Homo sapiens: one gene and its partners. The protein of the gene in region 2 purifies or fractionates together with the protein of the main gene of each other region. This does not show direct contact. Each region holds a gene or a part of one and is shown on either strand. Other genes may lie near its edges. The genes, in order: ASAH1, GSG1 and IL37.

What was found.
Region 1: the proteins of GSG1 (region 2) and ASAH1 purify together in Homo sapiens (affinity purification with mass spectrometry; 2 studies listed by BioGRID and IntAct, with this or other methods). This does not show direct contact.
Region 3: the proteins of GSG1 (region 2) and IL37 purify together in Homo sapiens (affinity purification with mass spectrometry; 3 studies listed by BioGRID and IntAct, with this or other methods). This does not show direct contact.

The regions. Positions count from the first base shown.
Region 1 is NC_000008.11:18,077,494-18,081,244, forward strand, and holds part of ASAH1 (acid ceramidase isoform a preproprotein), read right to left. Parts: intron 1-3,751. UniProt on the Homo sapiens protein: Lysosomal ceramidase that hydrolyzes sphingolipid ceramides into sphingosine and free fatty acids at acidic pH.
Region 2 is NC_000012.12:13,090,030-13,093,780, forward strand, and holds part of GSG1 (germ cell-specific gene 1 protein), read right to left. Parts: intron 790-3,751; coding exon 474-789; intron 1-473. UniProt on the Homo sapiens protein: May cause the redistribution of PAPOLB from the cytosol to the endoplasmic reticulum.
Region 3 is NC_000002.12:112,914,014-112,917,764, reverse strand, and holds part of IL37 (interleukin-37), read right to left. Parts: intron 2,573-3,751; coding exon of another isoform or gene 2,506-2,572; intron 637-2,505; coding exon 517-636; intron 131-516; coding exon 1-130. UniProt on the Homo sapiens protein: Immune regulatory cytokine that acts as a suppressor of innate inflammatory and immune responses involved in curbing excessive inflammation.

The DNA of each region.
Region 1 (3,751 bases), on a different chromosome or scaffold from region 2:
ACTCTTCAGTCACTTCAAACTTGGCAATGATCATCTAATAAATATCAACAACTGATCAGTTATCGGTATGTTGACAGTCAAGAAAAATCACTCAAAAATCACATGCTTTGTTCTTTAATTGATATTGATGTTCTTCCCAAAGTCCAGGACAAGGGTTCTCAATGACATGTAAAATAATTTCATTTTCCCTGGACACAATACTTCTGCTACTACAATCGAATACAATTTAGGTAATCCACCATTGGTAAATGGCTTTCCTTATTTTGCTAATAAATGAGCTACTTAGAGACTTATAGGGGTTGCAACTTAATTTTACTTTGTAAAATTTGTAAATAAGTTCTGCTGTGAGGAGATACTCCGCTTTACATTTTCTTGTTTATCTGACCATTGTTTTCCTATGAGTTGGGAATACTGTGATGGGTACTTAACCCAAGTGCTTAATTTTATGATCATGTTGTGGACTTAAGACCCTGCTCCATTAGTGACTTGTAGAAAGTTACACAGCTGGTGACAGAATCAGAGTCAATGGCTTTCCCTGTTCTATCAAACAGCTTCCCACAGAGATAATAAAACCAATGCCTCAATTTAATTCCTAACAGAATAATCTGCGCGTAGTTCAGGGCTTCTGGTGATCACTAGAATCAACTCGGCAAATTAAGTGAAACGTAATGACTCCTATCCCTTCCTAATAATGACATTTGCACGCCCTGGGTTCCAAAGCCAAAATAAACATCAAATTACAGGCACATTTCTTACTAGACAACTGTGAGCAAAGTTGAAAATGCTCTGTCTAGTATTAGGAGAGAATGTGACCTGCCCCAGAGGTAAGAACTAAAGAGCAAGCTAGCAACAATACATGTGGAGTGAGTCTGAGGTTGATAACGACTCTTGGTAGCAATAAACAAACGTGAAATTGGCATAGAACCTGGCTGCAAGGAAATAGGATAAGTGTGACAGAAAATAAGAAAGTTGGCAGCTATGAGACTACAGTATTTCAGGGGCTCACATGGCATGAACGCCTAAGTCGTTTATGCAAAAAGGTTAGTTTTAGGGGTAGGGTGGAAAAAAGAGCTACTTCCTCCCCCTCAAAAAAGAATTCTACAGGGAGACACAGCTTCAAAACCCACGAGTAGCCCTAAAACAGAATTATAATGAACTTACTTAATGTTATTTAAAGTTCCTTACTATCCCCAAGTTTATAAACAGTTTAATAACAGACAACTCTATTAAGGCAGGTAAAAACTTAAATAGATGATAGGTAAAGATTAGAAACAGATGATAAGAAGAGAGATTATGTGGTCTGGATGGTATACTATGTACACCCTATCACAGGAAACAAAATCCAACTTAGAATCAATTCTCTCTAACCCTCTCCCCACAGTACCTCTCTTTCTCTCTCTCTCCCTGCCCTTCCCTACCTTTCTCCCTGCCCCTCAGTGGTCTCCTAAGAGTGAAGATAAGTGGTAAAAATCTGATATTTCAATGCATTTGAAACTCTCTGGGCCAGGCATGGTGGCTCATGCCTGTAATTCCAGCACCTTGGGAGGCTGAGGTGGGTGGATCACCTGAGGTCAGGACTTCAAGACCAGCCTGGCCAACATGGCGAAATCCCCGTTACTACTAACAATGCAAAAATTAGCTGGGTGGCATGTGCCTGTAATCCTAGGTACTCGGAAGGCTGAGGTAGGAGAATTGCCTGAAGCCGGGAGGTGGAAGTTGCAGTGAGACGAGATAGTGTGACTGCACTCCAGCCTGGGAGACAGAGCAAGACTCCATCTCAGAAAAAAAAAAAAAACAAAAAACTCTCTGGAAAGTGCTTTTAAAAGACTGTTTGGGTCAGAAAATTCTCTAATTTTTCTGGTTATTTGATAGAAACTTAAGCCTCTTTGAATGTCCTCCCCATTCATTAAGAGAAATTAATTACAGAGCTACTGAACACAACATTCTAAAAAAAACACAAAAATATAAAGAGAACATTAAGGTCTCAATGAAAGCGCCATACCCTTAAAAAATGGCATAACTTGTACAGCTCCTTAAAATATTTGAGCCCGAAAGAATTAGGAGACCCTCAATGAAATAATGTATGCTTCTAATAGTGAATTTTAAAAGTCCAGAAAGCCCTTGTGTGCTTGTCTTATTGAAATACTCAGAAAGAGACAATGAAGGATAATCTAAAATTACATACCTCATGTCAGTTTTCATACCCACCAGAAGCCAAACAACTCTAGCCAGACAATTTTTCATTCATTCAATTCTTGAATTCATCAACAACTATTTTGCAGACAAGTTTTTCCTATAATGTCCTCTTATGTACAACTCAGCAGAAACACTGAATACAAAGAGGCATGTTTCCTACGTGTACAAGAATTCACATGAGCTTGAAAATGTTTTCACTTGTCTTCTGGGCTTTGATGGGATGGCATCCTATTAAGCTACTGATATTTAGGTCAAAGGAATGTGAATAAACCCTCCATGAGAGGAAGGACCTCATCTATCTCATTGGCTGACGCATTCCCAGCGTTTAGGAGTCTGGCACATAGTAGGCAAGCAGTATTTGTTGAATAAGTGAATGGATTACACCTGTGTGTTCCCTCTTTGGGAGAAGTAGGGAAAAGCAGATGAAGTGCAATAAATTCCTAGGCCAGATGGGGTCTATGAGATTTCTGGCAACTGCGTGAAAATCATTGCTAAAGCTGATTCAATAGCTAATGTCAACAATGTTGACATACGCTGTTAACTAGTATGAGAAGCTGATGCATAAAAATGAGTTTACAAGTTTACTTTGGCAATTAATTACTAAGCCATTACGTTTCATCTTCGCACATCTTATGAAGTGGGTCAGATTTATTACGCAGAGCAGCCATCTCTCCCCTCTAGTTCCTTTCCTGCCAATCACACTTAGCCTACCGCAAGCTGTTTTCTGCCCCCAACACTGCTCCAGTCGAGGTGACCAATGACCTCCAGTTGCCCAACATCATAATACCACTGACATCTCAATAATATTCAACATAGTTAACCTGTCCCAGTCTCTTCCCTGAGCTTCCTGTTCCACTTACTCTCCTATTTTTTTGTTTTTGTTTTCTGTGACGAAGTTTCGCTCATTGTCCAGGCTGGAGTGCAATGGCAGGATCTTGGCTCACTGCAACCTCTCCCTCCCAGGTTCAAGCAATTCTCCCGCCTCAGCCTCCTGAGTAGCTGGGACTACAGGCGTGAGCCACTATGCCCAGCTAATTTTTGTATTTTTAGTAGAGACAGGGTTTCTCCATGTTGGCCAGGCTAGTCTCAAACTCCTGACCTCACGTGATCTGCCCACCTTGGCCTCCCAAAGTGCTGGGATTACAGGCATGAGCCACCGCGCCCGGCCTGTCCTGTTTTAACTTTGGCAATTTCTCCTCTTCTTGACACATACATGTGCAAGTTACTTAGCCTTTGCCTAGTTCTCTTTTCTTCTCTTTCTCTATCCTATTTCTAGGTAAGTTCATCTGCTCCAAGGGCTTCAAATATAATATCATTATGCCAGTGACTCTCAGTGTCTCTCTTCTGAGTGCCAGTCCGAGTGGCCTGCTGGATGCCTCTCTGCCACCTGAAATTTAACATACACCCCAAATGAAAACGATCCTCATTCTTTAGCCCCCAAGCTTTCCCCTCCCCATGTTTCCTGGAACGGATGCCACCATTCGCCCAGCGAAGCACTTCAGCAATGTGCAGGTCACGCTGACACCTCACTCCCTCATCCTCACCCAACGATTCC
Region 2 (3,751 bases):
CAAGAGCAAAACTCCATATCAAAAGAAAAAAGAAATGAAGTTACTTGTATGAGGTCACAGTTGAGCAGAGCTAGGGCTTTCCTACAATATTCCTCTCCCTTCGTTTTGTTTCTAAACAGCAATTCTAGCTCCCTAGACCAGAAATTCTCATAATGTGAAAGGTCTAAATGAAACTTTTAAGGTTAATTCTATTTTTAACATGCTATTTTGAACCAACAAGTCTACTACAGAGGGAGGAAGTGAAAATCCAGAGGACTTTCAACCTTATTAAAAGGGGCTCCTATAGAGAAGGACACTGGACGGAGGTGGAAGGTTCTGTGCTGGGAGAAGGGAGTGAGGCCCACTGGGGTGTGGGCAGTGCTGCACTTCCAGGGCAACGCCAGCCCTAAGCGGGCCTACCTGATTTCCATGCCTGCATTAGATCCCTTGCCCGCCCTGACCCCGTTGCTCTTATATCCCAGAATGTAGGCTACCTGGTTCTTCCACAGTTTCCTCACAGGATAGCCACATGCCACTCCGGAAGCTCCGGAAGGAGAACCGGTCATCCCCAGTCTCCCAGTTGTATTGTACCACCTCCTGGGTGGATGTGTTGGTATCTCCATCCAGGGACACTGGCATGTCAAAGCACTTGGCTGCCAGACCTTTCTCGCACAGGGGCTTGGGCACCTTCTGTGTGCCCACAAACCAGTAGTTGCTGAGCAGGGATGTTGTGGAGAAGCTGAGTGATAGCATGCTGAGGATGGCAGATAGGAGTGTCCGCTGGCCAGAGAAGGCCTTCGAGAGCTCCATCTGTAATAGACAAGCACAAGTGGAAGGGAAGGGAGCAGGGGAGCTTGACTCAGAGCCGCCTCGGAGATGTGGCCATCCTTCCCTGCACTCCCTCCGCTCAAGCCATACTCCTCCAAGGCAGATAGGCACAACCCGCCTCTGACATTTTTCTCCAGGGGCCGCATGGAAGCCCCGCTTCAGGAGTGGTCTGCAGCAAGCACCCTGAGGGCGTAAGAAAACCATACGCCCAAATGGGGGCCTCAGAAGCAGCTCTCTCTGACATTCTCCTGTCCTCCTGTCTCAGTCCCACTCTTTCCCAAGGCTAGCCACAGAAACTAGAATCCCTCTTTCTCAAGGTGGGTTGTAGAAACCAGAGTCCCTTTCCCCAGAGCCAGCCATAAAACCTAAAAATATTACTCTAACTTTCCCTCTGCCTTCCCGTGTCCAAACTGGCCCTAAAGAGGTTATCTGACCTAGCTTGTGTGACTGTAGGTCATAAGACTCCCATTCCAGAGAGGGTCCTGCCCCACACCCAGAAGGAAGAAATGCACGCTCAGAGAGGCCAAGGAGAAGCAGCCCTTGCTGGGTTTCCCCACTCAATCTATTAACATTATTAGATCAGGCCAGATGCAGTGGCTCATGCCTGTAATCCTAGCACCGTAATCCCTTCCAGAGGTGGGAGGATCGCTTGAGTTCAGGAATTCATGACCAGCCTGGGTAACATAGTGAGACCCTGTCTCTACGGAAAATAAAAAAATTAGCCGGGCACGGTGGCGCACGCCTGTAGTCCCAGCTACTTTTGAGGCTGAGGTGGGAGGATCACCTGAGCCCAGGAGGTTGAGGCTGCAGTGAGCCACGATCATGCCACTGCACTCCAGTCTGGGCAACAGGGCTATCTGTCTCTAAAAAATAAATAACAACAATAGATCATGGCCTTGATGTCCAATCATATTTCTATGTGACTGTCCATACTTTGTTGAACCTAAGCATAAAAATAGACAATTTTCCCTTCATCTTTGTGACTTCATTCTGAAGGTTCCCACGTCACGTGAAACTACGATCAAATAAACTTGAATGTTTTTTCTCCTATTAATCTGCCTCTTATCAGTGGTTTTCAGTGAACCTTCGGAGGGCAAAGGGAAAGTTTTCCCCTGGCTTTTACACAACACGGGGATGATGCATCTTTAAGTTGAACCTTACACAGATCCAACTACAGAAAAGTGGTGATTTGCATAGATTGAATGACAGGGGCTGGCCTCTGGGCATGATATGCAGCAATACACAGAAGTAGGATAAAGGTGATCCACCAGAGAGGACAAATTAGAATGAGGAATGCAGAAGTCAGAGTGAATTGGAAGTGAGTATGTTAAAATCTTCCATTTCTGCCTCAAATGGTGAGAGTGGAATCAACATAGCCTCCAGCCGGCAAATCCTAGGGAGGATGTATGTGTGTGTGTGTACCTTTATGGTGAGTGCCATAATGACCCCACCAACAAACAGCAGGGGGATCTTTCTGAGTAGCAGTGATGGATCTGCCAGCAGCCACTACCTGGAGTTCTTGGACCAGCAGATTGAGCGAGAGAGAGAGAAGGTGGATTGCTGCACATTTGATACCACTGCTGGCCAGGCCCTGTCTACTGAAGTCCTGCCCCTTCTGAGGCTCACCCCAAGTCCCAACTGCTTCAGGGAGGTCCCCTAACCAGCACCTTCCATGGGAAGTGAGGCTTGGAAGGGCTTCAAGGACTGTGGTGTGTGCCTTCTTAATAGTACTCTTTTCACATTTATTTTTGGTCATGTCTTATCTTCCCTCCAAGATTTCAAGCTGCCATTAGGTAGCAAAAACGTGTCTTTGTAATTTTTATCTTTCCCACAGCAACTAGCACAGTATTTTACACATTAGACACTCAACACTAAACTGCTGAGTAAATTGAGGGTGTTCTGAATAAGCATCAGATAGCAATAACCTCAGTCAGAGGATATATAAACTTTTTCTTTTTTTTTTTTTTTTATTGAGACGGAGTGTCACTCTTGTTGCCCAGGCTGGAGTGCAATGGCACAATCTCGGCTCACTGCAACCTCCAGTTCCCGGGTTCAAGAGATTCTCCTGCCTCAGCCTCCCGAGTAGCTGGGATTACAGGCGCCTGCCACCATGCCTGGCTAATTTTTTTTTGTATTTTTAGTAGAGACGGGGTTTCACCATATTGGCCAGGCTGGTCTTAAACTCCTGATCTTAGGTAATCTGCCCGCCTCGGCCTCCCAAAGTGCTGGGATTACAGGCGTTAAGCCACCACGCCTGGCCGGTTATATAAGCTTTTAACTTTATGTAAAATAACATTAATACATATAAATATATAATTATATAATTAATAATTGACAAGGCAATTGATAACTTCTGGAAAAGTTTTATGTAAAGTCTAAACTTTATATAAAAGTTTAGAAAAAAGAATTGGGAGCATTCCAAATGCTCTTTGTGATAATCGTTTTTGGCTTTGTCTTCACTGACAGGTAGTAGCACTGACTTGCTGAAGCATTTGCTATTGTAACAAAGTGAGCTATTGGTGTCCTTTTCCCTGCATTACAGATTCCTCTGAAAGGAGTCATAGCAATGAATATTAAACTGGAAATCTCCGGGGGAAGCAGATGGATGCTTTGGGGCCTGGAGGATAAAAGAGGGCAGTGAACCTACTGGGATGTGGGGCTATTGAAACCTTTGGAAAGGAGATGGGGCTTATGGTTCTGGGAGAGGTAGCAGTCGGGCCCAGCTTCCATCCACTGCCACAGAGACAATAGAGTTTCAAATGCGAGGTGGCTGTGTGGTGCCTGTGTAGGCTGGACACCAGGTTTGGTGTCCACAGAGCCATGGGTAGGGTGTCGGCAGCCAAGCCCTTGGTCAGTGGAGAGGAACCTGGAGGGCCGTGTCTTCCAGCCTGGTGCAGAAGTGCCTGCCTCACAGTGGGGACATAGGGGAGGCTGCCGAAAGAAC
Region 3 (3,751 bases), on a different chromosome or scaffold from region 2:
GATGGATGACTTTGTCCTTTATCCTTGTCACAGTAGAGACAAAACTCCCCTTTAGAGACCCCCAGGAGAATCGGACTTCCTTTCTCCGCAGAGGCTGAGCTCAAGGATGAGGCTAATGCAAAGAAGATCTCTGGAAAAAGACAGTCAGAACATGTGTGGGTTCTGAGAGCAGGGAAAGGTCTCTCCTGTCTGCTGGGGTTTCAGGCCTGATGCACAGTCCCTCTCCCTTGACTCTGTGGTCCACTTCTCCCTCCATCACACTGGTTTAAGCCTCCTCTTCTTCCAGTCTAAGTGTCTGCCTCCTTCTTTTTCTCCAGCCCTTCCAGAAAGACTACTTTCAGATCTGGTCATTGCTAGAGACCCTTCATCTGATGCCCTAGTCCCTGGGGCCTCTCCTCCTCGCTTCCACCACCTGCTGGAGATGGGGCATGGTATAGCATGGAGTTGAGCCCACCTAGCAGGAGGCCTTACCCCTGCTAGGTGGAGGCAGAAAACACAGCCAAAACTGAGAGTCACCTGGGCGTATGTAGTTTTTATCTGGAACTGCTATGAGATTCCCAGAGTCCAGGACCAGTACTTTGTGATCCTGGTCATGAATGCTGAATTTCTTCGGGTTTAAGTTCTTCACCTTTGGACCTAGATCAATATCACCAGATATCAACACTTCACATTGAAAATGGAAGACTCAGCCCTTTCTTCCCCACGTCCAAGGGCCCCAGCCCTAGCTCTCCACCCTGCCTGTGGGCTCAGACATCACAGCCACTGAATATTTCTTCCACTCCCAGGCTTTCTATCTTGCTGGGACAAGCAATTAAGCTTTCTGTGCAAGCAAATGGGTTCCAGATTTGGACAGATAGATTCAAATCCCAGCTCTGCTGTAGGACAGAGGACAAGTTACTAAGTCTCTCCAAACCTCAATGTCCTCATCTGTGAAATGAAAGTAATAGCAGCACCTACTTGAGAGAGGAGTTATGAGAACTAAAATGCTTACTCAAATAAGTAGCACTTAGCCTGAGCAAAGAAAATGTCTGGCGTATAAAAAGGACTTTTTATAATCATTGTTTTTCTTAACTCTCTTTTTTGCACCCTCTGACTGGAGGCATCATTCCCTCAGCAGTGCCTAGAGTGGAACAGATCCCTGCACTGGCCAGGCTAAGGGAGCGGTGATGGAAGAGTTGGGAGGGTTGGAGGCAGGAAGCCCCCAGGAGCCCAGCACGGTGCAAGGCTGAGCTGGAGCTTTAGTGGCTCCTTTGAAAAGCCACAAATCTTGCACCTGGCCCTGGAGGAACAACTTCTAGCAGCAGGACCAGCCACAACAGTGCTCAGAGGGTTCTTAGGGCGTGGGCTCCTAGCAACTCATTTGGGCCAGGCCTGCCTAGAGTAGGGTCTTAAAAGGGAACGTTCCCTCCTGGCCTCTGATTGGACAGGTGACCCTCACCTCTGCAAAGAGCTCAGGCACTTGTTTGATAAAGAACAGGGGCCCCCAGGCTGGGCCAGTGACTGTCAAGAATGGGTGGGTGGCTGGAAAATGGCAAATGTGACAATATGAAAACACAGTAACCACCACACTATGTGAAGCTATAATATGGGTATCTGTGGTAGGCAATTCTAATGTAGAGAATAAGTCTAAGGTGTCATTCTTTTCCCATGCCATAAGCACATGGCCTCTGCCTGGGTTTCTCACTGTAGAATGTCCTCCTGGTCTCCTCATGCCCAAAGAGTGGGGAGGACTCCTCCTGTAACACCGGCTTTCCTGTCATCTCCCTGCAGCCCTCCTCAGCCCCCTCTGCACAGGGTAGCTTCCTCTCTGGTGCTGCAGCGCTCTGCACTCGTCAGTGGTACCTGCACACAGGTATTGGCATCCTTGGCTCGCTGCCCTATAGCACTGTAAGCTCCCCAGGAGCAGGCTTCCTATCTGACTCACCCGTGATCCTCCACCTCCCACCCTGTAGTGCCCCAAGCATCGTGGACACTCTCAGTGTCTATGGAAGAGATGACTGGCCCCAGGCAAGATCCTAAGTAACTCCCCAGTGATATGGGGTCAGATGAGATCCATGGTTATCAGCCCTGCCTTACATCAGAATCTCCTCAGGAGCTTTTCTGGGCCCATCCCAGGCAGTCTGAGTTCATGGAGCAGGTGCAGGTTGACTGAGAGTCACCGAGCTAGCTGAACTCTAAGCTTTTCCATTTCCCACACTTTAATGTGCAAGAAATCACCTGCAAACTATGGTTCAGTAGGTGTGGGTGGTGCCAAGCCTCTGTCTTTCTGATGCACTCCCAGAGCTGTGGGTGCTGCTGGTCTGAAGACACCCTTTGAGTGGCATGGCCTAAGGCTGTGACTCTCACCCCTGGTGCACACTGGGAATCACCTGGTGGGTGGCATTTTAAGACCATGGATACCTGGGCCTCACACTCCTGAGATTCTCATTCAGTTAGTCCAGGGTGAGACTGGAAAATGCTCTTTTTAAGAAGCTACTTTTCTAGCACCATCATTTTACTTTGTACCTCTTAAGCGCTTCTTAAAGCTGTTCTTTCCTTTGGTTTCTGTTTCCCTCCTATCACAGCCTGACATAGGATCTCAGCGTCTCACATGCAGACTAGTTCACTATCCTCTTAAGTGGTGTTCTCGCTCATGATCCTTGACCCCAAATCTTTCTCAAGGCCACTCTGAAGGTGTGAGTGGTCTTAAGGTGCTGGCAGTTGTTTTCTATAGGGAAGTTGTACTCCAACAGCAGCAGTAACATCAGTGCCAGCGCCAGCTTTAGGGCACTAGTAACTTTCTGTAGGGCAGTAGCTCTCAGACTTTCAAGGTGCGTCACGATAACCTGGAAGTCTTGTTAAAGCAGCCCCTAGAGCCTCAGCGCCCTGAGTTTCTGAGGCAGGAGGTCTGTGGTGGGGCCTGGGAATGTGTATTCCTAACACTTCTAGGCGCTGATGCTGCTGACGTTTGAGGACCAGACTTGGAGAACCACTTCCGCCAGATTTGAAGGAGATCCCAGCCCTGACAAGGAGAAGTCAGGACAGGCCCGACAGAGAGGCTTGTGTGCGTGGTTCCACCTGGAGTGGACACAGTGCAGATCCAAAGCCAGCAATGGTGTAACTACAACAAAACTAAAACATCAAAGGTAACTGCAGCAGCAGCGGTGGAGAAGTGACAGCAGCCTCCCCCAACTGTGCCAGGCACCCTTACACACCTGGTCCCATTTGGTCCTCTCTGCCATTGTACTAGTGAGGCTCAGTATTCCCACATGAACCTGCACTAGAGCTGGGGCTCAGGCTGAGGCCTCCTGACTCTGTCCTGAGAAGAGGAGGTGATGGGAGCCTTAAGCCTGAGTCAGGCAGACAGACGTTATAGTACCTTTAAATTTCCACATCTGTCACTTATTACCTGTGTCACCTAGGGCAGGGAATCTCCACTGTCTGTCTCGGTTTCCACACCTGAACAGTGGCAATGTTAACAGTTTCCTATTAGGGTGTTGTGGTGTTCAAATGGCAGCATGAGAGGAAGGTTCAGGCTCTGAAGGCGCCGCCCTGAGCCCTTAGTGGTGTGGGTGTCCCTGCACCCCCACTGGCCCCATGGCTGTTTGTCCTCAGTGCTGGGAGGAGGTCTGTGTCTCCAGTCTCTTGGCTATGGTCAGAAGAGGCACCTGGAAGGTTCCCAGGCACAAACTCTTCCTTGCCCTGTGCCTCTTAGCAGGTGAGCATCACCTGCCCCTCCCCGGGCTCATCTTTCCCAGAGTTATCTCCTAAT